4 linked regions of the Homo sapiens genome follow. The protein of the gene in region 3 interacts with the protein of the main gene of each other region in a pairwise test. Each region holds a gene or a part of one and is shown on either strand. Other genes may lie near its edges. The genes, in order: JUP, LHX4, AXIN1 and SMAD7.

Region 1 (7,023 bases), on a different chromosome or scaffold from region 3:
AAAGCCTGCAAAGAGGGGGCCGTACTGGGGCCAGGCCGCCTAGGCCAGCATGTGGTCTGCAGTGGGGTACGGGGGCCTGAGGCCGTCGCTGTAGGTGTCGATGGGGTAGTCTCCATCCATGTCCATGTGCATCTCCAGCGGGTCAAGGGGCACATCGCTGGAGTACATGGGGCGGTAGGTGGCATCCATGTCTGGGGACAAAAAGTGGGGCTCGGTCCTAGGGTCTGCAAGCTACCCTGCAGGGAGCAGTCTGCACAGCCTTCAGCTGCCTCCTCTACCCATGCCCACCCCTGGTGGGCCTGACCCCTCCCCAGACCCCACACCAGGGCATCTAGACTGGGGTACATGTGGATGCCACACAGCAGTTGCCACTGGTCCTCTGGCCCCGGAGACATAATATTGTCCCCTCACACACACCCACACAGCCGCCCAGGATCTCCAGGGTCCTGAAGAGCCCGGCACACACTTACCATCTCCATAGGGCTCATTGATGGGAATCATGCTCTGGGCCTGAAAAAGGAGAGAGAAACATGGAGGGGAGGTTTGAAAATGCAGGCTCCGAGCTGGATCTCAGCTGGTGGGCAGGGAGAGATGCTTCTAAAAGAGGGGGCCAGGCTGGGTGCCATGGCTCACGCCTGTAATCCCAGCACTCTGGGAGACAGCAGGCGGATCACTTGAGGTCAGGAGTTCCAGACCAGCCTGGCCAACATGGTGAAACCCTGTCTCTACTAAAAATACAAAAAAAATTAGCTGGGCGTGGTGGTGCAGGCCTGTAATCCCAGCTACTCGGGAGGCTGAGGCAGGAGAATTGCTTGAATGGGGAGGCAGAGGATGCAGTGAGCCGAGATTACACCATTGCACTCCAGCCTGGGCGACAGGAGTGAGACTCTGTCTCGAAAAAAATAAAAAATAGGCTGGGCGCAGTGGCTCACGCCTGTAATCCCAGCACTTTGGGAGGCCAAGGCGGGCGGATCACAAGGTCAGGAGACAATCGAGATCATCCTGGCCAACATGGCGAAACCGCGTCTCTACTAAAAATAGAAAAATTAGCCGGGTGTGGTAGCGTGCACCTGTAGTCCCAGTTACTCAGAAGGCTGAGGCAGGAGAATTGCTTGAAACCGGGAGGCGGAGGTTGCAGTGAGCCAAGATCACACCACTGCACTCCAGCCTGGCGACAGAGCAAGACTCCATCTCAAAAAATATAAAAATAAATAAATAAATAAAAGAGGGGGCTGGAGAAAAGCAAAGAGGCCTTGGAGGAATAGAGGATGATGAAATGGGGTCACCCAGTGCCCTGATATACTCATGTCCTCGGTACTCCCCAGGGAGGAGGGTTCCCCACTCATGAAGCAGGGACTCCTGCCGGACTAGAGCAGCTCAGGGGAGGAGGCAGAGGACTCAAGAATGGGTACAGGGCACTGCCCCACCCTGGAAAAGACCGCCCATAGCCTATCCAGCACCTCCACGCAAATTACAAAAAGGCACCCCCACCTCAAACACTGTATACTCATTTGGGCAAAATAAAAATTGGCATTTTGTGGATATATGATTCAACCCACTACTTCCATCTGCTAGGAATTGTTATAAATGATCCAATTACAAAATAAAAATCTATGAAGTTGACAGTAGTAGGAGACCCCCAAAAGTGTTGCCCATGGGCAGTGCCCAACTTGCACAACCAACTACTGTGGTCCAACCTAGGATACTCACAGCCTCCCAGGCAGCCGGGTCATGCTTGAAGAGGGAGTTGGTGAGCTCCACGGACACGCGCTTCCGGTAGTCTGGGTTCTTGTCCTCGGAGATGCGGAACAGGACGGCAGCAGCGTAGGTGGCTGAGCAGAGAGGAAAGGAAAAGCCAGGTTAAACGTCGGCCAGCCTCCATCGTGGCTGGGGGAGTGGGACCCAGCCTCCTGCCCTCCCCCAGCTCACCAGTGCCCTCGTTGCGGGAGTGCAGCAACTCCATGAGTGGGGCCGAGGCCCCCTCTGCATCAATGGCGTCGGCCGCCTCCTTGTCCTGGGCCAGCTCACACAGCACCCCGGCAGCCACGCGCTGGATGTTCTCCACCGACGAGTACAGGAGCTGGGGAGAGGGGACGTGGGAAGCAGGGGAGAGGTGGAAAGGGGTGAGGCAGGCCGGACAACACACCCCACAGCACTGCCCACCTCCACCCTGTAGCAATTCCATAGTGGAAAATGGGCCGTCACTGGGGAGTAAGTGTTACTGCTTTAAACTGGGCTGAGCATTGTTCATGAGCTACCTTGAAATTACCTGTGACTCTGCCTCATCTAACCATTGGAATCTAGTGTTAATGAGCTCACTGATGTGAAAGATGTTAGACTCTTCTTGTCTGTTATGGTACTTGCACATATTCTCCCAGTTTGCTGATTTTTTAAAAATGCTTTTTTAGGTTCTTTCTGAAATACAGATGGTTTTCATGTTTATATGGTTGAATCTCAAGTTTTTTTGTTTTTTGTTTTTTTTTTCCATTTGTGATCTCTTTCCTTGCTTTGAAGCTTAGAAAGCCATGCCCATGCAGGGGGTTGCTAAGTAGTCAATCTGGAGTGGCAACTTTCCTCCAAACTCCTCCAAAGACCTCTTGATACCTGGTCCAGGCCTCCCAAATCTGGGACTCCTAACCTTGCCCTTTAAGCAGTGGTGGGGGGACCTCTCCTGCCCACCTGCCCCAGACTCACCTGCACAAACAGGGGAATGGTGTTGAGCCGGAAGATCTCCATGCGGTTCATGGGGTCCCGGGCGAGGATGTGCAGTGCTCCGGTGCAGCCCTCCACAATCTCCTCCATCCTCACACCATCCTGTGTGAGAGGAGGCAGGGGGCATGGGACAGGTGCCTTGGACATGGCCACAACTCCTCCCCATGACAGCCGAATGAACTTCACAGGTTCTTGGAATTGGCATCAGTTGCAACTGACCTCCCCATTCACACACACACCCACAGAGGACACCCTGACCCCCCAGGAAGGCTGTCAGAGGCACCACCAGCTCACATACCGTGTAGGGCTGCTGTGTGCCTGCAGCTACGTGGCGCTGGGCATCCTGGTGGGCCTTCACCAGCAGTTGGACGAGGCGGGGGATGACCGCTGCCTCCTGCAGCGGGGCATGGTTGGCTGGGCACAGGGCCAGATTCCTGATCAAGCCGATGGTTGCCTGGCAAAAAAAGGGGCAGTGATCAGGGGCACTTCTTGGACATCTGAAGGATCCCAGCTTCCCAGCTTCAAGTATCCCTTCCCTCCTTCACCTCTTCTGTCCCCGAGGCCAGACACAGACATACTGGAAAATATCCAGAGAAGGAGACCATCCCAGCCATGTCACTTAATCCACAGGATCTGGGAGTGCTCATGGCTAATTCTTTTTTTTTTTTTTTTTTGAGACAGAGTTTCGCTCTTGTCACCCAGGCTGGAGTGCAGTGGTGCAATCTCACCTCACTGCAACCTCCACCTCCTGGGTTCAAGCGATTCTCCTGCCTCAGCCTCCTGAGTAGCTGCGATTACAGGTGCCTGCCACCATGCCCAGCTAATTTTTTGTATTTTTAGTAGAGACGGGGTTTCGCCATGTTGGGCAGGCTGGCCTCGAACCCCTGACCTCAGGTGATCCGCCTGCTTCTGCCTTCTAAAGTGCTGGGATTACAGGTGTGGGCTACCACGTCCGGCTGCTCATGGCTAATTCTAATAGCCCTTGCTAAAATGACACCCCATTCCAGAACATCCTGCCAGCCCCATGCCTGGCCCCTCACCCTGTCCCCTCTTTCTTAACCACCCCCCACAGACACCATGACCTTGCTTGCTTTTCTGATAGTCCTCCAAGCCTGATTCTCAGGAATTCTGTGCTCTAGGTGCCCCCGAAGCCTCCTGCTTGGGTGGTGCTCACATTGTCATTAATCCCCAGCAGGGCAGCTCTGGAAAGAGGTGTCCTGAGATCTCCTCCCCAGGGTCTTTGACTCAGAGGAGCCACTCTGGCCTCCCAGAGCCTCTCAAGGTGTCATCTATTTCATCCTCAAAACAAGACGCCAGGAGGACAGGGATGAAAATCATGTGAGATGGGGACGTGAGCACAGGGCAAATGACTTGCCAAAGTCACTTGCCACTTAGCTGCTGGGTTAGGATGCAAAGTCCCACCTCAGGTTTGCAGCAGGGACCAAGCATCAAGGAGGGGTCACAATGACATTTTTTTTTCTAAACATGAATTTTCTTTTTTTAATTCAATGTATAGGCCGGGCGCAGTGGCTCACGCCTGTAATCCTAGCACTTTGGGAGGCCAAGGCAGGCAGATCACTTTAGGTCAGGAGTTCGAGACCAGCCTGGCCAACATGGTGAAACCACGTCTCTACTAAAAATACAGAAATTAGCCGGGAATTGCTTGAACCTGGGAGGCGGAGGTTGCAGTGAGCTGAGATCATGCCACTGCACTCCAGCCTGGGCAACAGAGCAAGAATCTGTCTCAAAAATAATAATAATAATAAAAAATAATAATTCAATGTGTAGAATCACTTAGAGTCATTCTTATCTGCACTGGGTTTTTTTTGTTTGTTTGTTTTTTTGTTTGTTTTTTTTGAGACGGAGTCTCGCTCTGTCGCCCAGGCTGGAGTGCAGTGGCGCGATCTCAGCTCACTGCAAGCTCCGCCTCCCGGGTTCACACCATTCTCCTGCCTCAGCCTCCTGAGTAGCTGGGACCACAGGCGCCCGCCACCACGCCTGGCTAATTTCTTTGTATTTTTTTAGTAGAGATGGGGTTTCACCGTGTTAGCCAGGATGGTCTCGATCTCCTGACCTCGTGATCCACACGCCTCGGCCTCCCAAAGTGCTAGGATTACAGGCGTGAGCCACCACGCCTGGCCATGTTTTTTGTTTTTGTTTTCCAAGACGGAGTCTCTCTCTGTCACCCAGGCTGGAGTGCAATGAGCGATCTCAGCTCACTGCAACCTCTGCCTTCCGGGTTCAAGTAATTCTTCTGCCTCAGCCTTCCGAGTAGCTGAGATTACAGGCACATGCCACCATGGCCAGCTAATTTTTGTATTTTTTGTGGAGGCGGGGACTTACTATGTTGGCCAGGCTGGTCTCGAACTCCTAACTTCAGGTAATCCTCCCGCCCCGTCCTCCCAAAGTGCTGGGATTACAGGCGTGAGCCACTGCGCCTGGCCTGTCTGTACTATTAAATTGTCTTAAATGTAGCTGGCGGATGCCCCTGCCAGCTGGCTCCTGTGCCCGTTGACAAGACCCTCATCGATGGTAGCTTCCTCACTCTCTGGCACCAGATGCCACCTTGCCTTTGGCTGCCTTCCTTGTCTCTACATATAGATATACACACACACAAACGCTTTCCCCCATAACTCTGTCCCTTGGGTCTGCCCACACCCTGACCCACTCTCACTTCCCCCACCTGACAGGGAAGTGACACACAGCTAGCTCTCTTCCACCCAGGTAGCCTCAAGAAGAAGACCCCACTCCTTCACACACCCAACTCCCTATGGGAGATGCTAAGCGTCCCCAGAATCCTCTGTGCCCTGTGTCTCTGTAGTGGCTCTCCTGATTTTCAGCAGGACACACGGCCATCTGGCTGGTGATCACACTTCCTAACCTCCTTGCACCTTGATGTGGCTGAATGACCAAGTTCTGGGGTGTGAGCAGGAGTGATGTGTGCCACTTTCTGGTGGCCGCTAGCCATCCCCAGTTCTCAGGGCTAGAACACATCCGTGGGGATGATACAGTCCACTCATTCGTGTGAGGACAACCCTCTCGTCTACACCCAGTGGCATAAGAAATGTGCTCCATGGAGCAGCACCTGCGAGCTTGTTAAAAATACAGAATTGGGCCAGGTGCAGTGGCTCACACCTGTAATCCTAGCACTTTGGAAGGCCAAAGTGGGTGGATCACCAGAAGTCAGGAGTTCAAGACCAGCCTAACCAACATAGAGAAATCCCGTCTCTACTAAAAAATGCAGGAGAATCGCTTGAACCCGGGAGGCGGAGGTTGCAGTAAGCCGAGATCGCACCATTGCACTCCAGCCTGGGCAATAAGAGCAAAACTCCGTCTCAAAAAAAAAAAAAAAAAGAAGAAATACAGAATTGTCCGGGCCTGGTGTCTCACACCTGTAATCCCCGTACTTTGGGAGGCTGAGGCTGGTGGATCACTTGAGTTCAGGAGTTCAAGATCAGTCTGAGCAACATGGCAAAATCCCATCTCTACTAAAAATACAAAAATTATCCAGACATGGTGGCGTGCACCTGTAATCCCAACTACTCAGGAGGCCAAGGCAGGAGAATCACTTGAACCCGGGAAGCAGAGGTTGCAGTGAGCCAAGAATGTACCACTGCACTCCAGCCTGGGCAATAGACATTGTCTCAAAACAACAAAAAAAAGACATACAGAATGGCAAGCCCTCTGCAGCAGGCCTGCAGAGAGACAGAGAGAGAGAGAGAGAGAGAGAGAGAGAGAGAGAGAGAGAGAGAGAGAGAGAGTGTGTGTGTGTGTGTGTGTGTGTGTGTGTTTTAGATTGTTTATTTGTTTGGGCTTTTTTTTTTTTCCAAATTTTTTGTAAGAGATGGGTGTCTCACTATGTTACCCACGATGGTCTCAAACTCCTGGCCTCAAGTGATCCTTCCGCTTCCGCCTCTGCCTGCACCTCCCAAAGTGCTGGAACTACAGATGTGAGCCACTGCACCCAGCCTCCTGTTTTTCTTTTCTTTTAAGACACGGGTTCTTGCTCTGTCACCCAGGCTGGAGTGCACTGATGCAATCATAGCTCACTGTAACCTCCAACTCCTGTGCTCAAGCGATCCTCCGACCTGAGCCTCCCCTCCCCAGTAGCTGGGACCACAGGCGTGCACCACCACACCTGGCTAATTTCTGTTGTTGTTATTGTTGTCGAGACAGGTCTTGCTATGTTGTCCAGGCTGGTCTCAAATTCCTGGCCTCAAGCAATCCTCCTACCTTTGCCTCCCAAAGTGTTGGGATTACAGGCATGAGCCACCGTGCCTGGCCCTGGAACCTGCAATTTAATGAAACCAC
Region 2 (7,023 bases), on a different chromosome or scaffold from region 3:
CCTGAAGGGTGCGGGGAGTGGGCGGTAGAGAAGGGAGGCAGGCAGGGATCATAGCATGCCTGTACATGGATGGAAGGAGCCAGCAGAGGGGAAGCTAATGACAGCAGAGGCAAAGGGGATGGCTCACACCTGTAATTCCAGTGCTTTGGGGGCCAAGGTGGGAGGATCACTTGAGACCAGGAATTCAAGGCCAGCCTCGGCAACATAGTAGGACCCAATCACTACAAAACATGTCTTAAAAAATGAGCTGGGCATGGTGGCATGTGCCTGTGATCCTAGCTGCTCAGGAGGCCGAGGTGGGAAGACTGAGAGTTCGAGTGCAGTGAGCTATGATTGTGGCACTGCACTCCAGCCTGGGCAACCGAGTGAGATCCCCTCACCCCTAAAGAAAAGAGCTTAAAACTGCTTCTCTGCTCTGAGAAGCACAACTAACTGCCTTCACTGAAATATACCTCAGGCAGAGATTTGGGGTGAGATAGTAGGTCAGTTGATGTTCTGCAGGAAGGGGCAGCTTGTCCATATCAGCTCGCTCACGCCGCCAGTCCATTCTTAAGGAACTGCCAACCAGGACTGATGATGCATTTTAGCTTTGAGCTTTTGGGGGTTATCCTACCAACAAACAGTCCTTCGGGAAGAAAACAATCCCAGGAATTAACAGATCAGAATGTTCACACTGGTTAATCTTTTTCTAGCAATGAACATGAAGCTAGCAGAAGCTGGTGTGTTTCCAGATGGTTCCTCTAACCAAACTAATTTTTCACTGTTGACAAGTGAGGCAAGGGTTGCACTGGACCAAAGGCTGAGGCTTGGCCATCTAGCATTCCATGCAAAATGGTTTCCTATAAGCATTCCTTTTATTCTCTATTCTATCCTGGGTCTGCCTCAACCATGAGATAGGAGAGTCTCCGGTACTAGCTGCTGTAGCACTGCCCTTCATCCAGGACAGTTAAAGGAGTCTTGGACCTTTCTTTCTCTGGGATCGCTGCCCAGCACCTTCCTACAGAGATGACTTTGAAAGGAAAAAAAAAAAAAAAAAAAGGAAAAACAGCACACCATTCCAAGGAGCCTGGCATTCCTGAATCCTCCTTCCCTACAAGGTGCCTGTCACCTGTCTTTACTGCCTCCTTTTCCCTGTCATGCTCATCAGCTATGGCTTCTGTCCAAGTGCCTGAACAGAAGACTAGAACCTCCACTGCAGGCTGGTTTGAGGTCGTGATTTATGTCAGAATCTTGCACAGCACTGCTAATGTAAATTTCAGCTTTTTCCCTCTAGGATAAACACTTACCAAAGTATGCAACTTTTTTTGGTGGGAAGAGGGATTGTCCTGTGATTTCTACCCATTTTCTGAGGCCTGTGGAAATAAATCTTTAGGTACTTAAAGTTAGACCAAAAATAGAACAAAGTTAATACCAAACTTGAAAAAAAAAAAAAAAGAAAAGAAAAGAGCTGCCATTATGGAGAGCCAAGCCTCCCCTGACTACTCAGGCAAATGTTTTAAGAAGCAGTTCGTTCGTTCACTCATTCGTTTGCTCATTCGTTCATTCATTCATTCATTCATTGGGTCTTTGTGGCTTGCCTACTATGTGCTGGGCAGGGATAAGACAATTTCCAGTGGTGTTGGTTAGAGGATGAAAATAATATGAGCCATTAGCAAGTCTTCCTTGCATTTTCTCTGTGGTTTTGGATCAGCTCCAGCTGCTCTCCTGGGGGGACTGGTTGTCCCCAGAGGCCTGGCTAGCAGGACTGGGCAGCAGGCTTATCTTTCTGAAGGGTGAGGCCAGTGCCCTTGGTGCCCCTGCATGGGTGCCCGGTGATCGGTGTTAAGGGGTGCTGCTTGGAAAAGCCCTTGGGAGCCCTCTTCCTTGGCTGGAGTCCAGCCTTTCCCTCTTTACCCCAGCGTCCTTCATATTTGGTCCAGTTGGTTAGACTTCTGGTTCTCTGTGTAGCAGCCGGGTTCACAGTTTTACCTCGTGTGGGGCCAGGGAATTCTAGGCATGACCGTGTGTCTCATTATTGCCTGTCGCAGGGCAAGTCATGTGACCTGCCAGGCTTTGGCCTTCTCACCTGTGACTCTGGCTATTCTAAGATCTGGGAATGGGGACAGTGTCTCCATCACAGACACACCCCTGTAGGATGCCCTGTATTCTAGATACACTGGCTCTGACTGGAGATGGGGTGGAGGGTGATCTGCAGGGCTGGGCTGGGCCGGGGGAGCCTTGTGGGCCAAGGAGGTGCTGCATGCGGCTCCCTCGGCAAGGGTCCCGCTGGCTGTGCTCCAGGGGAAAAGGTAATGAGGAGCCACTTCCACTTCCCTTCAGTATAAATCCCACAATCAGGAAAATTGCTTCAATTGCTAAAAAACGCTGGTGGGGAAGTCCACTTATTTTTCATTTTTCTTGTGCACTTGCCACCCTCATGCATGAATCACTGTCGGTATGTAGATTAAATTTATACCCCCGTTATCTTTCATGTCTCTGGTGTGCTGGTGTCAGCTGGGCCTCCGGTGACTGAAAGCCCCCTGCCTGCTTTTTAGTGGGAGAGAGTGTGGCCCCTGTGGAGGAGGCTGCTGAAGGGTCTTCCCTCTGTTCCGGGGTCTCCTCTCAGCCCTCCTCTCCTTGGATCTCTGGTTAGGACACATTCTCCAGATTTGCGTGGTTTGTTGGGAGGGTTCGCAACAAGCATGATGAAAGCCTTGTTTCATTTTAATTAATTAATTTAGAGACAGGGTCTCGCTCTGTTGCCCAGGCTGGAGTGCAGTGGCGTGATCTTGGCTCACTGTAGCCTCAACCTCCCTGGGCTCAGGTGATCCTCCCATCTCAGCCTCCCAGGTAGCTGGGACTACAGGTGCACACCACTACACCCGGCTAATTTTTTGCATTTTTTGTAGAGGCAGGGATTCACCATATTGCCCAGGCTGGGCTCAAGTGATCCTCCTGCCTCAGCCTCCCAAAGTGCTGGGATTACAGGCGTGAGCCACCACACCTGGTGCCTTGTTTCATTTCAGTACCTGCTTTGCAAATTGGCTGGGATTGGATATTAAATATACAGGCCTTTTGAAAACACTCTCTAGTAACACATGTGTAGGCTTCCTTTCTCTGTTATACACACACACATAACACACACACACACACACACACACACACACACACAGTAGAGGTGGGTGCCTGCCAGCCTTCCTCTTTGATCCAGGTGATGTGGTTACACAGCAGTTGTGGAGGACCTGGTTCTCACCTGTGTTCTGGGAGGTCTAGAACCATCCAGAGCCGACTGTGTGCTTTGTTCTACATCCTCAGGTTCGGCCATCTCCGTGCACATCCTCTACAAGTATGGTGCTTTATCTGCTGATTTATTTATTCAACAAATATTAACTCTACTTTCCTGGGTCCTGAATCCCTTTAAGAATCTGATGAAAACCCAGGTCCCCTCCTGAGGCACAATTTTGAACAACTTAGCAGGTGGTTTACAGGCCTATGCTGACCCTCACGCAGAGAACTCCTGCTCTAAATGGGCCCCATCTCTCTGAAAACCAAGAGGCATTCCAGGAATTCAGAAGCCTGGGGTCCTCCCAAGCCACCACCTCTCAGCCCCTCACACCCCAACACCCTTCTTATACCCATCTCAGAAGAGTGTTCCCTGAAGTACACTCTGGGTCTTTCAGGATTACCCATGCAGACTTAGAGAACCCCCACTTTTCTCTGGGATGCTGTGTCCCTGGTGGGGGGCGTCTGAGGCTGCTGCTGGCCATGCCTATTCCGGGCCCCCATAACCCCCTCAGCAGGTATCATTACTGCATAACAGACCTATCATTCTGCATTAATCTGGTATTCATCATGATAGCCATGACCATAATTAATTTATTTGGTATTAATGTGGATGAAATATGTACTGTCCTTTCAGGGGAAATCAGGCTGCCTATAAGCATTAGTTAAAAGGACCATTAAAATCAAACCTTCCCCAGATCCATTAGGCGAAGTCTTTCATCCTGAAGAAGATAAAGTTCTGCTGTGTGAAATGTCATGAATAATTAGGTTGATTGCTGTTTTAAACTCTGCCCTTGCTTTCCCAATGCCTCCCGCCTCCCTCCTGAAGCGGGGAAGGCTCACCTGCAGCCACGCACCCTCCTTCACTGTCCCTGTCGGCCCCCAAATTTCCCTCGTCTCCTATGACCATCGGTGTGCCTCTGTTGATCTCTATGACCAGAATGGGGAAAGGGAGTGGAAACAACCCCACTGGACGATACTTTTAAGTGTCAATTTCTCCTTCCTTCCCGGCCTTGGCAGGGGGTGGCTTGCTTGGTAGAAGCTGCCTTGGTGGCAGCAGGTAGCTTCCTTTTGCCTCGGTGTTGTTCTGGAAAGGTGCTGACCAAGGAGAGGTCTGAAGCAGCATTTTCCAAACTGTAATCTGCAGACTCCTTGTCCCGAATGCTGTAGGGGCTGAAAAGTGCAGCTTCCTGGGCCCTTCCCAAACCACCATGCCCCAGGCTGTGTGCGTGCATAGGAAGGGGATGGAGGTAGGCTTGGAGGGCTTTGTGTGTGCAGAATGGAGGTGAGGGGAGAAATGGAGGCAAAGGAGAGAGAACAGCTGTCAGGACAGCCTTGCTCTGCTGACAAAGTGCATTTTCTCTGCAGCGTGCTGTCCCCTGGCCAGGCAGGGCCTCCTCCCTGGGAGTGTGTGAAAAGGTGTTGCTGGGTGCTTTCTACACACAGCCTGTGGCACACACAGTTCCCTGTGAGGATGTCCTCTGGGATCAACCATAAGGGTGAGGAAGCTGGGAGGTGGAGGGGGAGACAGCCTGCTTTGAGGGACTTAGAAAGTCCACCTGCTCCCCCTGTGAATTGATGGGTGTTAATCGGGCAGCTGGAATCCGGGGGCATCAGCTTTGGAAAAGGTACCTGAGGGAGACTCTAGTTCTCATCAGTCCCTTCTTTGGTGGTTGAAGAGTCCCAGGCACAAAGCAATGAAGCTAGATGGAGGCAGAGAGGACCAGACGGTAAGCTCTGGGTGACTGGGGGGTGAGGCTCATGGAGTCCCGGAGTGGTGGGGTAGGAGGGAGGCTGCTCCAGGAAGTTGGGGGAAGCCAGATCCCTTGCTCCCTGTGTGCCCTAATCCTTTCCTGCTGCCCTGACAGGCGCTTCGGCACAAAATGCACGGCCTGCCAGCAGGGTATCCCCCCAACCCAGGTGGTCCGCAAGGCCCAGGACTTTGTCTACCACCTGCACTGCTTTGCTTGCATCATCTGCAACCGGCAGCTGGCCACGGGGGACGAATTCTACCTCATGGAGGACGGGCGGCTGGTGTGCAAGGAAGACTACGAGACAGCCAAGCAGAACGGTAAGCAGCATGGCCCCGCATGGTCCCCTCTCCAGGCCTTTGTTTGGGCCACGCCCTCTGCCTGAGGTGCCCTTCTCATGGCGTCCCACCTGCCCATCCCTCAGAGCCCTACTCATGCACCGCCACCTCTGAGAAGCGTCCCAGATCTCCACACTGAGAGTAAATGCTGAACACCTCCCCGGCCGTTAGCACTCGCCGGCTTCATGGAAGTGTTCATCCAGCCATGGTTCCTGAGAGCCTGCCTGTCTCCATGGTAGGCTCAGAAGCAGCCAAGAACCTGGTTGTTACCATGGTGGTGGCCTCCTTCCCTGGGTGGAGGCTGGGGTGCTGAGGGGTGGCTGGGAGCTTGGTCTGTATTGGACACGTGGGGCTGCCGCTTAGTTTTGCACATCAGGGTGCACATGGACCTCTCAGCAGCCCCTGCCTCAAAGGCCGTCGGTGAGAGCCCAGCACTGGCCTCTGCACACTTCATACATCTGTCTGTTAATTGTGTTCTGTTCGCCTCGCAGACTGTGGGCTCCTCTAGGGCAGGGCCTCCTGGAGTTTCTGCAAGTGCCCAGTGAGTGCTAAAAGAAGAGGCAGGACACATGCCAGATTCAGGGAGGCTCCGTCTCAGCAATATAGCTCCCTCCACCCACTTCAATATAGCTGCCCCCACCCCCTTCACCACAACCACTGCAGGGCCACTGCCCACGGTGGCAGCAGGAGCTCTGCATGGTGGAGGCCGAAGTCAGGTCCCGCATTTAGCAGCCACGCCTGGAAAGGCCTAGCTTGGCCTGGCGGCAGCGGCTCTCGCCCTACATGCCATGCGCTTGGGCAGCCCGGGGACTTTCCAGCGTAGAGCCCAGAACAACACATTCCCCATGCTCCCCTCGCAAAGCCAAGGTGGACACTTTTATTCCTGCAGCCCTACCTCTGGCTTCTCACTCCCAGATGCACCCACATGGTCGTGGGGTCAGGCCCTGGCTCTGAATTTGGGATTTGGCCAAACCCAACATGATAACCTCAGAGGTGTGAACGCACAAAACATCAAGTTCCTTGGCCTTTGACTAGAATTTTGATCAACTCAGGGTGTTACTGTGCAAAAACGGCTCTTGTTGACAGCTCTGGGCTTGATGAGAAAAAAAATTAACAACAATTTTATGTATCTCCTTCTAGATCTTTTCTGGGCCCACACACATATTATACAGATCTCATCAATAATGGAGAAACTGGTTTTTTGTTCATTGAACACAGTATAAAATAAGGGGATTGTGGTGGTGAGGAAGCAGAGGGGATTCATAAGGGCCCTTTAGGTGAGCCAGCTGGAGCTGGGTTTGGCTTTGGTCCATGGCAGGAGTGGGCAGGGCTTCCTGTCTCTTTGAGGACCTTCCCTCCCACCACCCCCACAGCTCTGGCCTTTCAGGGTGGACAGAGGCCTTTGACCTCCTTCCTCCAGAGACCTGGGGCCTCTGCAAACCCATCCCAAGGCTCTTTGCCTGCAATGTACTAATCTGCTCTGGTTTCTTAAAACTCACTCCATGCTATTGCCTTGAAGTCAATTGTGATGTCATGGGAGATTAGGGCAACTTGTCAGGGATGAACCATCACAGCAGATGGACTCAGAGATACCAAGACACCTTTGGAAGTCTAGTGCCGTTCATCAGAGATACTAAGATGGCACGACCTCCCCGGCCTGCAGCTGGTTCTCA
Region 3 (7,023 bases):
GACCTTGGGGAACAAGAGAACAAGTTGTGACTGTGGCCGACACCCTGGCCAGGTGGCCTGGTGGGGCTACACTCATCTCACAAGGGCAGCCTCCTTGAGGGATAGGATGGGATGGGGCACTGGGGCCTGGCCACCAAGCCACATGGACGTCCTCCACAGACCACACAATAAAAACATCCCGGCCAGGCATGGTGGCTCACACCTGTAATCCCAGCATTTCGGGAGGCCGAGGCGGGCAGATCACCAGAGGTCGGGAGTTCGAGATCAACCTAACATGGTGAAACCTCATCGCTACTAAATATACAAAATTAGCTGGGCGCCTGTCATCCCTGCTACTCTGGAGGCTGGGGCCCGAGAATGGCTGGAACTGGGGAAGTGGAGGTTACAGTGAGCCGGGATCACGCCACCGCACTCCAGCCTGGGTGACAGAGTGAGGCTCAGTCTCAGGAATAAAAAAGACAACAAAAAACCAACCCTCATTTGCCTGTAATCCCAATACTCTGGGAGGCCAAGGTGGGTGGATCGCCTGAGGTCAGGAGTTCAAGAACAGCCTGGCCAACATGGCAAAACCATGACTCTACTCAAAAAATACAAAAAATTACCCAAGTGTGGTGGTGGATACCAGTAATTCTAGTTACTCGGGAGGCTGAGGCAGGAGAATCGCTTGAACCTGGGAGGCAGAGGTTGCGGTGAGCTGAGATTGCACCACTGCACTCCAGCCTAGGCAAGAGTGAGACTCCATCTCAAAAAAAAAAAAAAAAAAAAAAAATGGCCAGGCGCGGTAATCCCAGCACGCTGGGAGGCCGAGGCGGGTGGATCATCTGAGGTCAGGAGTTCAAGACCAGCCTGGCCAACATGGTGAAACCCTGTTTCTACAAAAATACAAAAAGTTAACTGGGCATAATAGTGGGTGCCTGTAATCCCAGCTACTCAGGTGGGTTAGACAGGAGAACCACTTGAACCTGGGAGGTGGAGGTTGCAGTGCGTTGACACTGGCCTGTTGCACTCCAGCCTGAGCCACAGGAGCGAAACCCCATCTCAAAAAAAAAAAAAAAAAAAAAAAAAGGCCAGGCGCGGTGGCTCACGCCTGTAATCCCAGCACTTTGGGAGGCTGAGGAGGGCGGATCACGAGGTCAAGAGATCGAGACCGTCCTGGCTAACACGGTGAAACCCCACCTCTACTAAAAAAATACAAAAAATTAGCCGGGCGTGGTGGCGGGCGCCTGCAGTCCCAGCTGCTCTTGAGGCTGAGGCAGGAGAATGGCATGAACCCGGGAGGCGAGGCTTGCAGTGAGCTGAGATCAGGCCACTGCACTCCAGCCTGGGCAACAGAGCAAGACTCCGTCTCAAAAAAAAAAAAAAAAAATTCTTTCATGGAGACTTTTTTTTTTTCTTTTTTTGAGACAGAGTTTTGCTCTTGTTGCCCAGGCTGCAGTGCAATGGCTCGACCTCGGATCTCGGCTCACTGCAATCTCCGCCTCCCAGGTTCAAGCGACTCTCCTGCCTCAGCCACCGAGTAGCTGGGATTACTGGCACTCGCCACCACACACGGCTAATTTTTTGTATTTTTTTTAGTAGAGATGGAGTTTTTGTCATGTTGGCCAGTCTGGTCTCGAACTCCGGACCTCAAGCGATCCACCTGCCTCGGCCTCCCAAAGTGCTGGGATGAGGCTTCTTTTTTTACATTTTATTTTTAACAGCTTTACTGGGATACAAATTATATACTAATCCTAGAGGCCGGCGGATAGCTTTGAGTCCAGGAGGCTGAGACTGCAGTGAACGGTGTGATTACACCACTGCACTTCAGCCAGGGTGACAGAGGGAGACTCTGTCGCAAAAAATTAAAAAAAAAGTCTTAATGAATAAAAAGTATAAGTATGTCTCAAAGTGGAATGTATTAATACTTATCCTAAAATATGGGACATGCAATATTTAGTATATACAGCTATTTAAAAAAAGGATTCGGCCGGGCACGGTGGCTCACGCCTGTAATCCTAGCACTCCAGGAGGCCGAGGCAGGCGGATCACCAAAGGTTGGGAGTTCGAGATCAGCCTAACATGGCAACCACCCCCTGCCCCGGTCTCTACTAAAAATACAAAAATCAGCCGGGCGTGGTGGCTCACGCCTGTAATCCCAGCTACTCGGGAGGCTGAGGCAGGAGAATTGCTTGAACCCAGGAGGTGGAGGTTGCAGTTAGCCAAGATTGCACCACTGCACTCCAGCCCGGGCGACAGAGCTAGACTCCGTCTCAAAAAAAAAGACTCGAAGGCCAGGAATGGTGGCTCATGCCTGTAGTCCCAGCATTTTGGGAGGCCAAGGTGGGAGGATCACTTGAGCCCAAAAGCTTGAGACCCAGCTGGGCAACACACTGAGACCCCCTCTACAAAAAATGAGCCAGGCAAGGTGCTGTGCACCCCTGTTCCCTCGGGAGCCCCAGAAAAACGATGAGCCCGTCCCCACCTCAGTCAGCACCGATGGGGACCCCAAGGCCTTGCGGGACAGGCTTCCAACACAGGCAGGAGGGCCACGCCCCAGGCGCTCAGCTGCCTCACAAGTTCTCATCAAGTAATGTGGAGGGAGATGCGTCCTGGCCAGGGCCTGGGTGAGGGTGGGGGGCAGATCAGGACCTAAGTCTGAGGAAGCTGGGGCCATCCACCCACCAGGGCCAACACTTCCCAGCTGACCTGCCTCTGACCACGACAGGAAGGTGGGGGGTACCACCTCTGTGGGGCCCCTGGCCCTCCTGCTGGGTTCCGGGCACGAGTGCAGGCCCAGGGGGCGAGCAGGAGCAACACCAAGACCGGCCCGGCGGGCAGCGGCAGGGGCTGGACCTGTGGCGCCGGGGCCTTGCTCCACACCACACACGAGGCCTCTGCCCTTCTGGGAGGAGAGAAGTGCTCACGCTACACAAGAGCCTTCCCCAGCCCTCAGCAGGACGGCCAGGTGTGAGCACAGAAGGCTCCTCCGTGGGCACCTCGGGAGTGATGGTCAGTGGGGGCCTTCCCAGGTGACTTAGGTCATTCTCATGTGGGGGTCAGACTGGAAATGACCTCCCGAGAGCATCTGTGCTGCCTGCGGGGTGACAGCCACGTCAGCTTCCCTCCTGCTCGGGGCTTCAGGGACAGCCTCTCTCTGGGGACATGAGGTTTTCCTCCTGGAGACGTGGGGCCCAGGGAGCCTGCTGGAGGGTGCCCGGGAGGGTGCCACAGTGACAGGGGAAGTGTGAGGCGTCACAGGCGACACTCGCCACACACACTGAAGCTGCACACACTGAGACTGTGCGGAGGCCAGGGGTGGCAAAGCAGGCCCCACGAGGCTGGCTGCGTGCGGGGTGCTCACCCGTGGCCGGTCCTGCGGTGCCTGCTGATCTCCTTTTCCCCCTCAATGATCCACTGCATGATTTTCTGGTTCTTCTCCGCATCCTCCGAGGCACCTGGCACCTCGGTGCTGGCGCTCTTCCCCGACTCAGCCTTCTTGGCATTTCTTTTGCACGCCACGCCCACCTTCCCACTGCAAGGGCAAGAGCTGCGAGTCGCCCTGGCCTCCGGTGGCCGAGGCTGTGCCCCTTCCTCGTCTGCGAGGCCCCCTCCTGGCATCTGTAAGGCTCCCGTGGTGCAGCCGCCGCCCGCTGTCCCCTGCCCGCTTGTCCCCCACCCGCTGTCCCCCGCCAGCTTGTCCCCCACCCGCTGTCCCCTGCCCGCTGTCCTGGTGCTGTCTGGGGGTTGGTTTCCTCTCTAAACACACAGGCAGTCACTGCTCACCCCCTGAAGACTGAGGGCCAGAGCGGGAGCCAGGGTCGGGCTGTGTCCCCTAACCTTCATCTCCCACCTGAGGTCACGGCGTGGACTCCCCTGACCCAGGGCCCAGTCCACTCCCTCCAGCAGAGGGGCCTCCTGCCTGTTGCTGGCGGTCCTGGGTTTCCTGAGTTTTATGAGGAGGTTCTGGCCTTCTGCAGGGACACAGCCTCACCCCAAGCCCCCTCCTCACTGACAGGCGCACGCTCACCTGTGGGCGAGGCCATCACTGGCGTTGGGGGCAGCGCCAACACTCTCTGAGTAGCCTCGGGACCTTGCCCCATGGCTGTGTGGTTCCAGGCCCCAGGCGAAGCTGCTCTGGGCCCTGCGGGTGGCCTCGGCCTCCACCTGCTCCTTGGGCCGGGCTGTGCTGTGGTGGACGTGGTGGTGGACGTGTCGGTGGTGGTGCAGGCCGGCCGCGTCCAGCTTCGCCCCTGACTTGGGTACGTGCTTCCCGTGCCCCGAGGCGGCACCCCCCAGTGCCACTGGCATCTTGGCCACGTGCCCACTGTCCGGGGAGCGATGGCCAGGCCCAGGCGACTGGCGGCCAGGTGTCCTCAGCACACGCTGTACGTGCTCGTCCAGGATGCTCTCAGGGTTCTCCTCGTGTGCATCCCGGAGCCCGGCACAGCCCATGTCCACACAGCGGGGCGGGAAGTGGTGCCAAGCGGGGGCGGGAGGCAGCTTGTGACACGGCCCTGGGGGCCCTGACGATGGATCGCCGTCCTCACCTTCCTCCTCCTGTGTGGGGACAAGCAGCACCATCACCTCTCAGCACCAGCTGCACACTTGGGGAAAACAAAAAGCATCAGGCCTGACCCAGCAGCCCCAGCAGATGCCGTCCCAGCCCAGGGTGGCCGGGGGCCCCTCGCCACCGGTCCTGTCCCTGAGGATGGAGAGGCAGGACGGGGCATAGACAGAAGGAGCGGAGACAGCAAGGCCTCAAGGAATGCAGCGTATGTATCGGCTGTGGGCAGAGCTCTGCACAGATTTAGTTTAGTTTTATTCTTTTTTTGAGACAAGTTCTTGCTCTGTTGCCCAGGCTGGAGAACAGTGGTGTGATCTCAGCTCACTGCAGCCTCCGCCTCCTAGGCTCAAGCGATCCTCCCACCTCAGCCTCCAGAATAGCGGAGACCACAGCCGTGTGCCACCACGCCCAGCTAATTTTTTTGTACTTTGGGGACAGATGCGATTCTCACCATATTGGCCAGGCTGGTCTCGAATGCCTGAGCTCAAGCAATCTGCCTGCCTTGGCCTGTATATATATATATTTTTTGAGACAGAGTCTTGCTCTGTTACCCAGGCTGGAGTGCAATGGTGCCATCTCGGCTCCCTGCAACCTCTGCCTCCTGGGTTCAAGTGATTCTCCTCCTTCAGCCTCCCAAGTAGCTGAGACTACAGGTGTGCGCCACCACACCCAGCTAATTTTTGTATTTTTAGTAGAGACAGGATTTCACTATGTTGGCCAGGCTGGTCTCGAACTCCTGACCTCATGATCCACCCACCTCGGCCTCCCAAAGTGTTGGGATGACAGGCATGAGCCGCCGCGCCCGGCCTCCCATTATATTTTAAGGAGAACCTTGTACAGAACGGCTCTTGGGTTATGTACATGTTGTGATGCTGCCTGACGAGCTTCCACATGAAGCCGGTGGAGTTTCACTTGATTCTCCAAGTTAACAGGTGCTGAAGCTTATCTGTCAGAGCAAACATTTGATCACTTTAATTCCAAGTTGCATCTCATACTTATTTTCTCATCTTATTGGACTGACAAACTAAAACAGTATTGAGTAAATCTGGTGTCAATACAAAAGAAAGAGAGGGAACTAAGTTACCATGTATCTATGTATGTATTTATTTATTTAGAGTCAGAGTCGCTCTGTCAGCCAGGCTGGAGTGCAGTGGCACGATCTTGGCTCACTGCAACCTCCACCTCCCGGGCTCAAGCAATCCTCCTGCCTCAGCCTACCGAGTAGCTGGGATTATAGGAGTGTGCCACCATGCCTGCCTAATTTTTTTGTATTTTTAGTAGAGACGGGGTTTCACCATGTTGGCCAGGCTGGTCTCAAACTCCTAACCTCAGGTAATCCACCACCCTCGGCCTCCCAAAGTGCTGGGATTACAGGAGTGAGCCACCACAACCGGCCTATTTATTTTCATTTTTTTGAGACAGAGTCTCGCTCTGTCACCCAGGCTGGAGTGCAGTGGCACGATCTCGGCTCACTGCAACCTCCGTCTCCCGGGTTCACACCATTCTCCTGCCTCAGCCTGCCCAGTAGCTGGGACTACAGGTGCCCGCCACCACGCCCGGCTAATTTTTTATATTTTTAGTAGAGATGGAGTTTCACCGTGTTAGCCAGGATGGTCTCGATCTCCCGACCTCGTGATCTGCCCACCTCGGCCTCCCAAAGTGCTGGGATTACAAGTGTGAGCCACCGTGCCCGGCCTATTTTTATTTATTTAATTTTTTTTTGAGACGGAGTTTCACTCTTGTGTCCCAGGCTGTAGTGCAATCTCCGCCTCCCGGGTTCAAGTAATTCTCCTGCCTCAGCCTCCCGGGTAGCTGGGATTACAGGCACCCACCACCATGCCCAGCTAAATTTTTTGTATTTTTAGTAGAGACTGGGTTTCACCCTGTTTGCCAGGCTGGTCTCGAACTCCTGACCTCAGGTGATCCACCCACCTTGGCCTCCCAAAGTGCTAGGATTACAGGTGTGAGCCACCACACCTAATCGCAGTGGTGCCATCACAGCTCAAGGCAGCCTCAACCTCCAGGGGTCAAGCGATCCTCCTGCTTCAGCCTGCCAAGTAGCTGGGACTACAGGTGCATGCCACCATGTCCCATTAATTTTTTCTTTTTCTTTTTTTTTTGTAGAGATGGGGAATCTCACTATGTTGTCCAACCTGCTCTTAAATTCCTGGCCTCAAGTGATCCTTCTGTCTTGGCCTCTCAAAGTGTTGGGATTACAGATGTGAGCCACTGTGCCCCACCTACCTCTATATTTTAATATAAACAAACCTCCCAACGTTTAGCACCCAACTCTCACACCTGCAAAAGTATCCAAATGCAACTGGAACAGGCGTGCCCCAGAGCTGGTGTGGGCTTGGCTGCGGGCACCTGCACTGGGGCTGAGGGTGAAATATGGCACTAAAGAGGACAGACGGATGCTGGAGCAGAGCCGGGGGACAGGTGGGTGGTGGGCATCCCCTGGCGGATGCAGCTATGCTGCC
Region 4 (7,023 bases), on a different chromosome or scaffold from region 3:
ACAAACCTTCCGAAAGGACCCTTTCAAAAGCTGCCACTTCCCTTGCTTATTTCATGTGGTTTGGAGGGGCCGGGGCTCCTCCCTGCACATTCAGGGTTTAAAAAATAAAACCATCTAACAACATCCTGAGCGTGTTATTCTGCTGAGACCCTTTCCTCTCATTGGCCTTCTTTCTTTCAAGAACTCTCTCAGCCTTAGAAAGCAGAAAAGATGCAGTTCACACACTGCTGCCTTTTCTCCCTCCTCAACTCCTCTGTCCACTCCCACCGTACTGCCTGAAGCCCCCTCCCTTCTCTAGGTCCCTCTTTTTCCTGCTCAATTCTCATTAGAAGCTTTGAGTAAACAATACCCTCAGTCTCAGATAACAGAGTATATATTGCATTGAAATGAAAACAAACAAGGGTCTCCCTAAAGACGTTCTCAGCAAGCTCAGTTCCTGAAGAGGAGAGCCGGGGAGGGAGCCGTCCGGGAATGAACTTTGCCTGAGCCAGCCATGGAAGACACACCACCAAGTAGTCAGAGCAGGTACCCCACAAAAAAGGGTGCCCCTCACACAAGAGGATACACCACAACAGGGCACAGCTTCTATTCGAGCTGCTACCACGTGATCCTACAGGCAAGGAAATGCCAAATGCCCAAAACTCTGCTGGAATTTCTGTTTTTAAGGTCGTTTTCCCTCTTGCTTCAGCCAGTTCTTAGAAAATCTAGTGATGACATGGTGGGGATGGAAAAACAGGTAGAAATAGGATTTCTTCAGAACAACATGAAATGCGTCCCATGTACATAACCAGTGAGTTTCTCTAAGTACTGCCCTCTTTTCGCATCCTCAGGAACAACAATGCTCTGGCTACCCCGTGCCTGTCAGCCAGCCCCGTGACCCCCCAGCACTGGCATTCCAGGCCTTCACGCATACCTGTGAGCCCTGAGGAAAACCTGCCCCGCTAGGGAACAATTACAGCTCCTACTGTTGGCAGTGCTCCCACCCTGGTGCTCCCAGCCCCAGACATGTGCTGCAAAATCCTGCAGCAGGCTGGGCTGGGAATCAGAACTTGGGAGGGAAGCCTCAGATCTACTCTGAAATCCCATCGTATGCTTGGGATCTGTCTTCAACAAGTTCCCTAAAGGTGGGTCCATTCCCTTTACATCCCCCATGCGCAAAGAGCAAAAGCAAAAAAAGAGCTCAAATGCATGAGTTAATGACACCAAAGTCACCAAGCTGAAGCCCCCCAAGCCAGGAGCTGCTTAAAAATAACCGGGCAACACTTCACACACCAAAGCAATCCCCAGCTCGCTCTTGTCTCCCCGTCCACGGAACGGATCCAGTGTCCAGAGCGTAAAGGACTGCAGGATGAGGAGCTGAAGGGCACCACAATGTCACCACCGATGCATCCAACTTAAGGCATATAAAAATGAGAATGAAGTCCAGACCAGCTGGGGTGGCAGAAGGCCACCCCCATTCCTCCAGTCTTTAGCAATTTCAAAAAAGGTTGGAATTGCCAGGAAAATAAGAGAAAGCATCTTACCTGAAAGCCCCCCAGGGGCCAGATAATTCGTTCCCCCTGTTTCAGCGGAGGAAGGCACAGCATCTGGACAGTCTGCTGTGGATTTGAAAAGGGGAGAGAAAGAAATAAATACACAAATAAAAACACCAAGATCCATCTTTAAGCACGCTCTAAACAGCATGAAAGACAAACCACACATTCCAAAAGGCTGACTCGCGGCCTTGATGCTGATTATTAATGGTCTGCTCAGGCTTCACTGCCCATCGTAAGACAGACCACAGCACCTTGTCACCCGTCTGGGCTCCGGGCAGCCAGTTAATCATTACTCGAGTCAGGCTCAATGAGACTGGCTGGAATTTCTCTTGCATTACCAGTCCCCCATTACGGATACCAGGTGGTTCCCAAGGTCAAAGGAGGTTTGGGTTGGACTTTCTCAACCCTGGTTGCTCTGTCATCCCTCATCAAGGGCAGAAGGCTCTCTCCTTGGAGCCCATGTCCTCTCTGCCTTCATCCTTTTAAAGACAGGTTTCCCAGTTCTTGAAAACATTCTCAAGATTGATGTTGGGCTGCCGGGACTTCTTTCCCCTTTTTTAATTGAGGACTAACTTAAGTAGAGCAAAGTATACAAAATCCCAAGTAGACGCAATGAATGTTACTCATGTATACATCTGTGTAACCACCACCAGATCAAGACAGAGAACATTCTCAGCAAGGCTCCGAGCCGGAGGGGAAATGTTCTACCTCTCCCAGGCTAGTCCAAACCCCTCATCTCTGGAAACCTTCCCAGGCAACCCCAGACCTGCTAAGGCTCTCTGCCCTCAGTTCCTATAAAACATTTGGCACCCAACACTCGGAGTTTCCTCACTGATTTTTACCTTTAGATTGCATCTGCCCTTAACTAGACTTCTCTTCAACTTCTGTCACCCTCAGGTACTCTGCACAGTGACCTCACCGTTAATGAGGATAATGACAATTCCAGCTGAGAAACAGTCTCCACAACCGCCCTCCAAGCAATTAAAGCAAAACCTAATGTCCATGAACCACAACTCATTAGTCCCATGAAACACAAATACACAAGACCCTGTAAGCTTGTCATGCACCACTGGCAGCGCCAAACTCCCTGAAGTCCTAGCGGAGAGCCCGGCTAAGGAAAGGTGCTGCCCAGGTCCGCAGCAAACACAACAGGTTGGATCGTGCAGACACCAGGCCTCCTACCCCAGGCCACCAGGACAATGTCCCTGTGGGTTTCCAGTTGGAACCACTTGGCCATGCTGGCAAATAGGAAAGCCAAAAAAAAAGAGCAGACGGGCAAGTAGCCCATGGGAATCCTTTAGTGGCCTACACATAGCCCCAAACCATCTCTGGGTTTCTGCTGTCTGCCCTCTTAATGCTAAGTTTCTCTCTCTAACTCAGGGTCACTCCCTCTCCCACATTCTCAAGGCTGGAAGGACAACTTTTCAAGAACTCTCCTAAGCGGGCGAGGGGCAGAAGTGGAGGCAGGCGTGGGGGTGAGGTGGCTGCGGTGGGTAGGGGGAAAGAAGACTGTGTGTGTAATCTCATTTTATCAGGGTAAAGTCTAATTCCTAACAGGAATATACAGTTTTACAGGATACACTTAATCAAACAGAAAACAATAGAGGCAGGCAGGAAATGGAGTTACTTGTTAAATGGTGTATACCCTGCACTTTCTAAACCATTTTGATGGCCTTCATCATTTTCTAGAGATAGGCTTCTCAACCCTCTCCTCCACCCACTCCTCCCAGATGGAAGACACCCCCACATTAAACATAATGACTTATCCACAGCCACTCCCCGCCACCTTTGGCTGGCAGAATCCCAGGGGCAAGGTGTGTTTCAAAGGAAAAGCCGGGCATCTCAGAGCAGAGCTGAGACCACATTCAGGGTGTCAGCCCATCTCAGATCAAAGGTAAGCCAGCTCCACACAGGCAACCACAAGCATTTTTGTGAAATGGTGCTCTGCCCTTCTGCAGTGGCTTTGATCTCAAGAGGGATTTACAAACGTTAATTAAGCCTCCCTACCACCCCTGTGAAGAAGCAAAGTATACCTGTTCCATAGGCAGCCAGGTAAACTGAGGCGTCACTGACTAGCTCAAAGGGCCACCCAGTGAGCTGGGCTATTCCCAAGAGTCCAGCCCTATCCCATGGCTCTCACTCCCCAGGCAGGCTATGGAGTCCCTACCCTCTTTCCTGGAGGTGGCCAGGCCATCCAGACTGGCCTCAAGGTTAAAGGAGCCATACCTCCATCTCTCACCCACAGAAAAGCTCCGCATAGACAGATCTCTGAAGTCAGGGTCTCACCTTAGGCCTGTGTCGCCTGTTCCCCAGAGCCCAGGCTGGCTGGCAGACAGAAGCTCTAGGCCACTCCTGACTCACGCAACACTAAGTGTTATCAAGCACTTGGTAAGCACTAGGTTCTGCGAGAGAAAAAGACTCATTCCTTTCTCCGAGCAGCTCCAACAGAGTCTTTGAAAACCCAACCCTGGGGAGCAGCCAAGGAGCGAACTATTGAGAATGAGTACAAGGTAAAGGAGCTGGGAGTCCCACGATAGTCTCAGCAACTGCGTTCTGAGCTTCCTAAGTACTGTTAAAGACAGAGGAGCCCCTACTCACCACTGTACCCCAAGGGTCCCAGCTCTGCCCCAGGTAGTTCAACCAACCCAGAACTCAAATGAACCCTGGTTATAAAAGAACACAGCACTGCCAGGTGCAGTGGCTCACGCCTGTAATCCCAGCACTTTGGGAAGCAGAGGTGGGCAGATCACACGAGGTCAGGAGATCGAGACCATCCTGGCTAACTCGGTGAAACCCCGTCTCTACTAAAAATACAAAAAATTAGCTGGGCATGGTGACGGGCACCTGTAGTCCCAGCTGCTCGGGAGGCTGAGGCAGGACAATGGTGTGAACCCAGGAGGTGGAGCTTGCAGTGAGCCGAGATCGGGCCACTGCACTCCAGCCTGGGCACAGAATGAGACTGTCTCGGAAAAAAAAAGAACACAGCACTGCATCGGAATCCTCAAATTTCTAGGTAGGCACATCATCATGCCTGTAAAATGAATGACTGAACCAATGAATGAATAAATGAATGAATGACCTAATCTCTTTCATCATGCTGATTTTAAAAGAGGCCTAGAAAAGTTAAGAGGGACCTCGGTTAAGAGAGAAACGCAGTGCCAGATCTCAGGTCAAGACACCAGACTTCCGATCTGGATTTGCAGGCTGGATCTGCCCATGGATACTGGCCACCTGGGTCCCTCAAGAGCTCACCCAGCAACCCCCCAAGGCCAGCCATTCCTCAAACCTTTCAGACCATCAGATACAATGAAACACGGGAAGCAGAGCCCACACAGCTATCCCCGAGATCCAGCTTTAAACAGCAAATTCTGACTTCTTGTGGGATGTGGAGGTGGGGGTGTCTTTCTGACTTCTGACAGCCACAAGTCACAACTGGCCTCCCCTAGGTTCAGTCATGTGAACACTCTTTCAAAGAAGGCTCTCCTGGTTGGACCACACAGTACCTAGGTGTCTAAAGTCCAGGCCTCCCAGATGCTGAGTGGAGTGGCTTAAATTATAGCAAAATGGAGTTCCTAGCTTTGAGCCCTCTGTGTCTCCAAAGGCTGCAGGGTACCAGGCCCCAGCCCCATTCCCACCACCTTTTCCTAAGATGGAGACTTCACAGGATGTATTCCTTTAGTTGTGCAACTGGTTAAGATTTTAACAGTTGTCCACTGTAAAACTTTGTGCCTGTTTCATCTAGTAACCCAAGACCAAAAATTCAACCTAAGGGACATAGAAACTGAAGAATGTAAATGGTCCATGTAGATTCCCGGGCCAAACATTCTCCCATACGCAAAATGGGGATGAAGACCTGGGTCAGCGCCCATCTGTGGTCTGACCTCAATGCCCCCGGCCACAGCAGCTGGCAAAACCAGCCCCAGACCTGTGAGGGGGGCGGGGGGGGTGTGCTCCAGCTCCAGACCTGGCTGTCCTCCAATGTGGCAGGACAATTCCCTTCGTGGGGGCTTTGTCTATTACTGATGCTAAATTCTTACACAGCAGCGCCTTTTCTCATTTCTTTTTTTGTTCTATTTTCAACAAAACGTTTTGGGTGAGTAACCAGCTGTCTTAGTTTCCGATTGGCAGGTTAATCACTTCCTATTGGCTGATCTGGAGAACTTTTCTCCCCCTTGGAAATGGCACATTCCTGTCTTTGTGGCTTCTCTGTTTACACACATTTTGCTACCTAATGTCAACACTTGCTAATGAATAAATATATCACTCCACTCACCGAAAATGAGGCCCTGGCCTGGCAGAATGACTGCTTAAATCCTGAGAACAGATTTATCCCAGTGTCTCTGCAGGAAACCCAAGGGAACATGGCCTTTCTTTTCTATGGTTTTTGGAGGTTTCTGGGAACATTTACCCCTGCTGGTCTTTATCCCTGGGGCTAAGGTCACTGTTCTCTCTCTTTTAAGGAAAACCTCCAAATTTGAAGAATATGGAAGGACAAAAAAAACAGGTCAGAGGTGGCCCCTTGGAAAATGAACTTCATAAAAGAATTCTTGATTCTTTAAGCCAAAACCCAGTCAAGTTACAGTCTTTAGGAAAACAGAGCTTGGTAATTCCAGTTAACGTTTGTTACAAATACAGAGAGCTGGGTATCTCCTTATTAATAACCATTTATCTGGTGTTTTGTAAATCGAAAGCAAAATATCACATGCTTTGCGGGCCACTTATTAGACCGGCACCAGGCAAGCAGGAACGCCTTCCCAACTTGAGGGAGCTGGTAGAGTCCCAGGAGGACTGGCTGCAGAGTATGGGCTTCGGTTACACGTTCATTAAAGTATTTAATTTATGACAACGCCCCAGCAAAACTTTTAATTAGTGGGGGGAAAGGCCCAACAGCCAAAACGCAGGAGGCGGAAGGACTTGCAGAATTCCAGGAGCTAAATGGTGCCCAACCCTTCACTTTTCCTTCTCCCAGAACCTTGGCAAAATAAAAATGTCCCAAGTATTAATGTTTTTTTCAGGCACCAGTATACAGGCACAAAAACCAAGGTTACATACAACCTGTACTTTTAGCAAACAGATCTATCTCCTACTGTAAGAGGGAGCTCCAGGAATTTGGGTTTGTCCTTGTTGTCACCCCCAAGTTCATTTTGCTGACCCTGTCCCCAGCACTGTGATGTCCAGAGGATGGACCCCTGTGCTGCTGCCGGCCAGAAGTTGAATGCAGACAACCACAACAGGGCTGGTGCCAGTCTCAAATGGGCTTCTGCCATGGCTTCATGCCAGCCAGTGACAAAGCAGCAGACAGGCAGAGCTATGCTTCAAACTTTGATAGTCCCTATGGCGAATACTGAGAAAACCCCGGGAGAGGACTGACTTGCAGGTGACTGGAGCAGGAGGAACCTACCCCCCCCCCCCTTTTACTGGCTGTTGCCTATACTTCTGAAAAGTTCTAGTGTCTACTCCAGACCAAAGTCTTCTTTGCACCTTTTTA

Evidence for each region.
Region 1: the proteins of AXIN1 (region 3) and JUP interact in binary tests that used the Homo sapiens proteins (3 or more experiments, as listed by UniProt).
Region 2: the proteins of AXIN1 (region 3) and LHX4 interact in binary tests that used the Homo sapiens proteins (3 or more experiments, as listed by UniProt).
Region 4: the proteins of AXIN1 (region 3) and SMAD7 interact in binary tests that used the Homo sapiens proteins (3 or more experiments, as listed by UniProt).

The regions. Positions count from the first base shown.
Region 1 is NC_000017.11:41,755,705-41,762,727, forward strand, and holds part of JUP (junction plakoglobin), read right to left. Parts: intron 3,167-7,023; coding exon 3,011-3,166; intron 2,815-3,010; coding exon 2,695-2,814; intron 2,081-2,694; coding exon 1,930-2,080; intron 1,833-1,929; coding exon 1,711-1,832; intron 511-1,710; coding exon 471-510; intron 192-470; coding exon 40-191; 3' UTR 1-39. UniProt on the Homo sapiens protein: Common junctional plaque protein. The membrane-associated plaques are architectural elements in an important strategic position to influence the arrangement and function of both the cytoskeleton and the cells within the tissue.
Region 2 is NC_000001.11:180,261,263-180,268,285, forward strand, and holds part of LHX4 (LIM/homeobox protein Lhx4), read left to right. Parts: intron 1-4,940; exon of another isoform or gene 4,941-4,968; coding exon of another isoform or gene 4,969-4,991; intron 4,992-5,129; coding exon 5,130-5,332; intron 5,333-7,023. UniProt on the Homo sapiens protein: May play a critical role in the development of respiratory control mechanisms and in the normal growth and maturation of the lung. Binds preferentially to methylated DNA.
Region 3 is NC_000016.10:293,716-300,738, forward strand, and holds part of AXIN1 (axin-1), read right to left. Parts: intron 5,490-7,023; coding exon of another isoform or gene 5,469-5,489; exon of another isoform or gene 5,296-5,468; intron 4,584-5,295; coding exon of another isoform or gene 4,560-4,583; exon of another isoform or gene 4,545-4,559; intron 4,537-4,544; coding exon 4,007-4,536; intron 3,512-4,006; coding exon 3,341-3,511; intron 4-3,340; coding exon 1-3. UniProt on the Homo sapiens protein: Component of the beta-catenin destruction complex required for regulating CTNNB1 levels through phosphorylation and ubiquitination, and modulating Wnt-signaling.
Region 4 is NC_000018.10:48,940,958-48,947,980, forward strand, and holds part of SMAD7 (mothers against decapentaplegic homolog 7), read right to left. Parts: intron 1,851-7,023; exon of another isoform or gene 1,702-1,850; coding exon of another isoform or gene 1,599-1,701; coding exon 1,524-1,598; intron 1-1,523. UniProt on the Homo sapiens protein: Antagonist of signaling by TGF-beta (transforming growth factor) type 1 receptor superfamily members; has been shown to inhibit TGF-beta (Transforming growth factor) and activin signaling by associating with their receptors thus preventing SMAD2 access.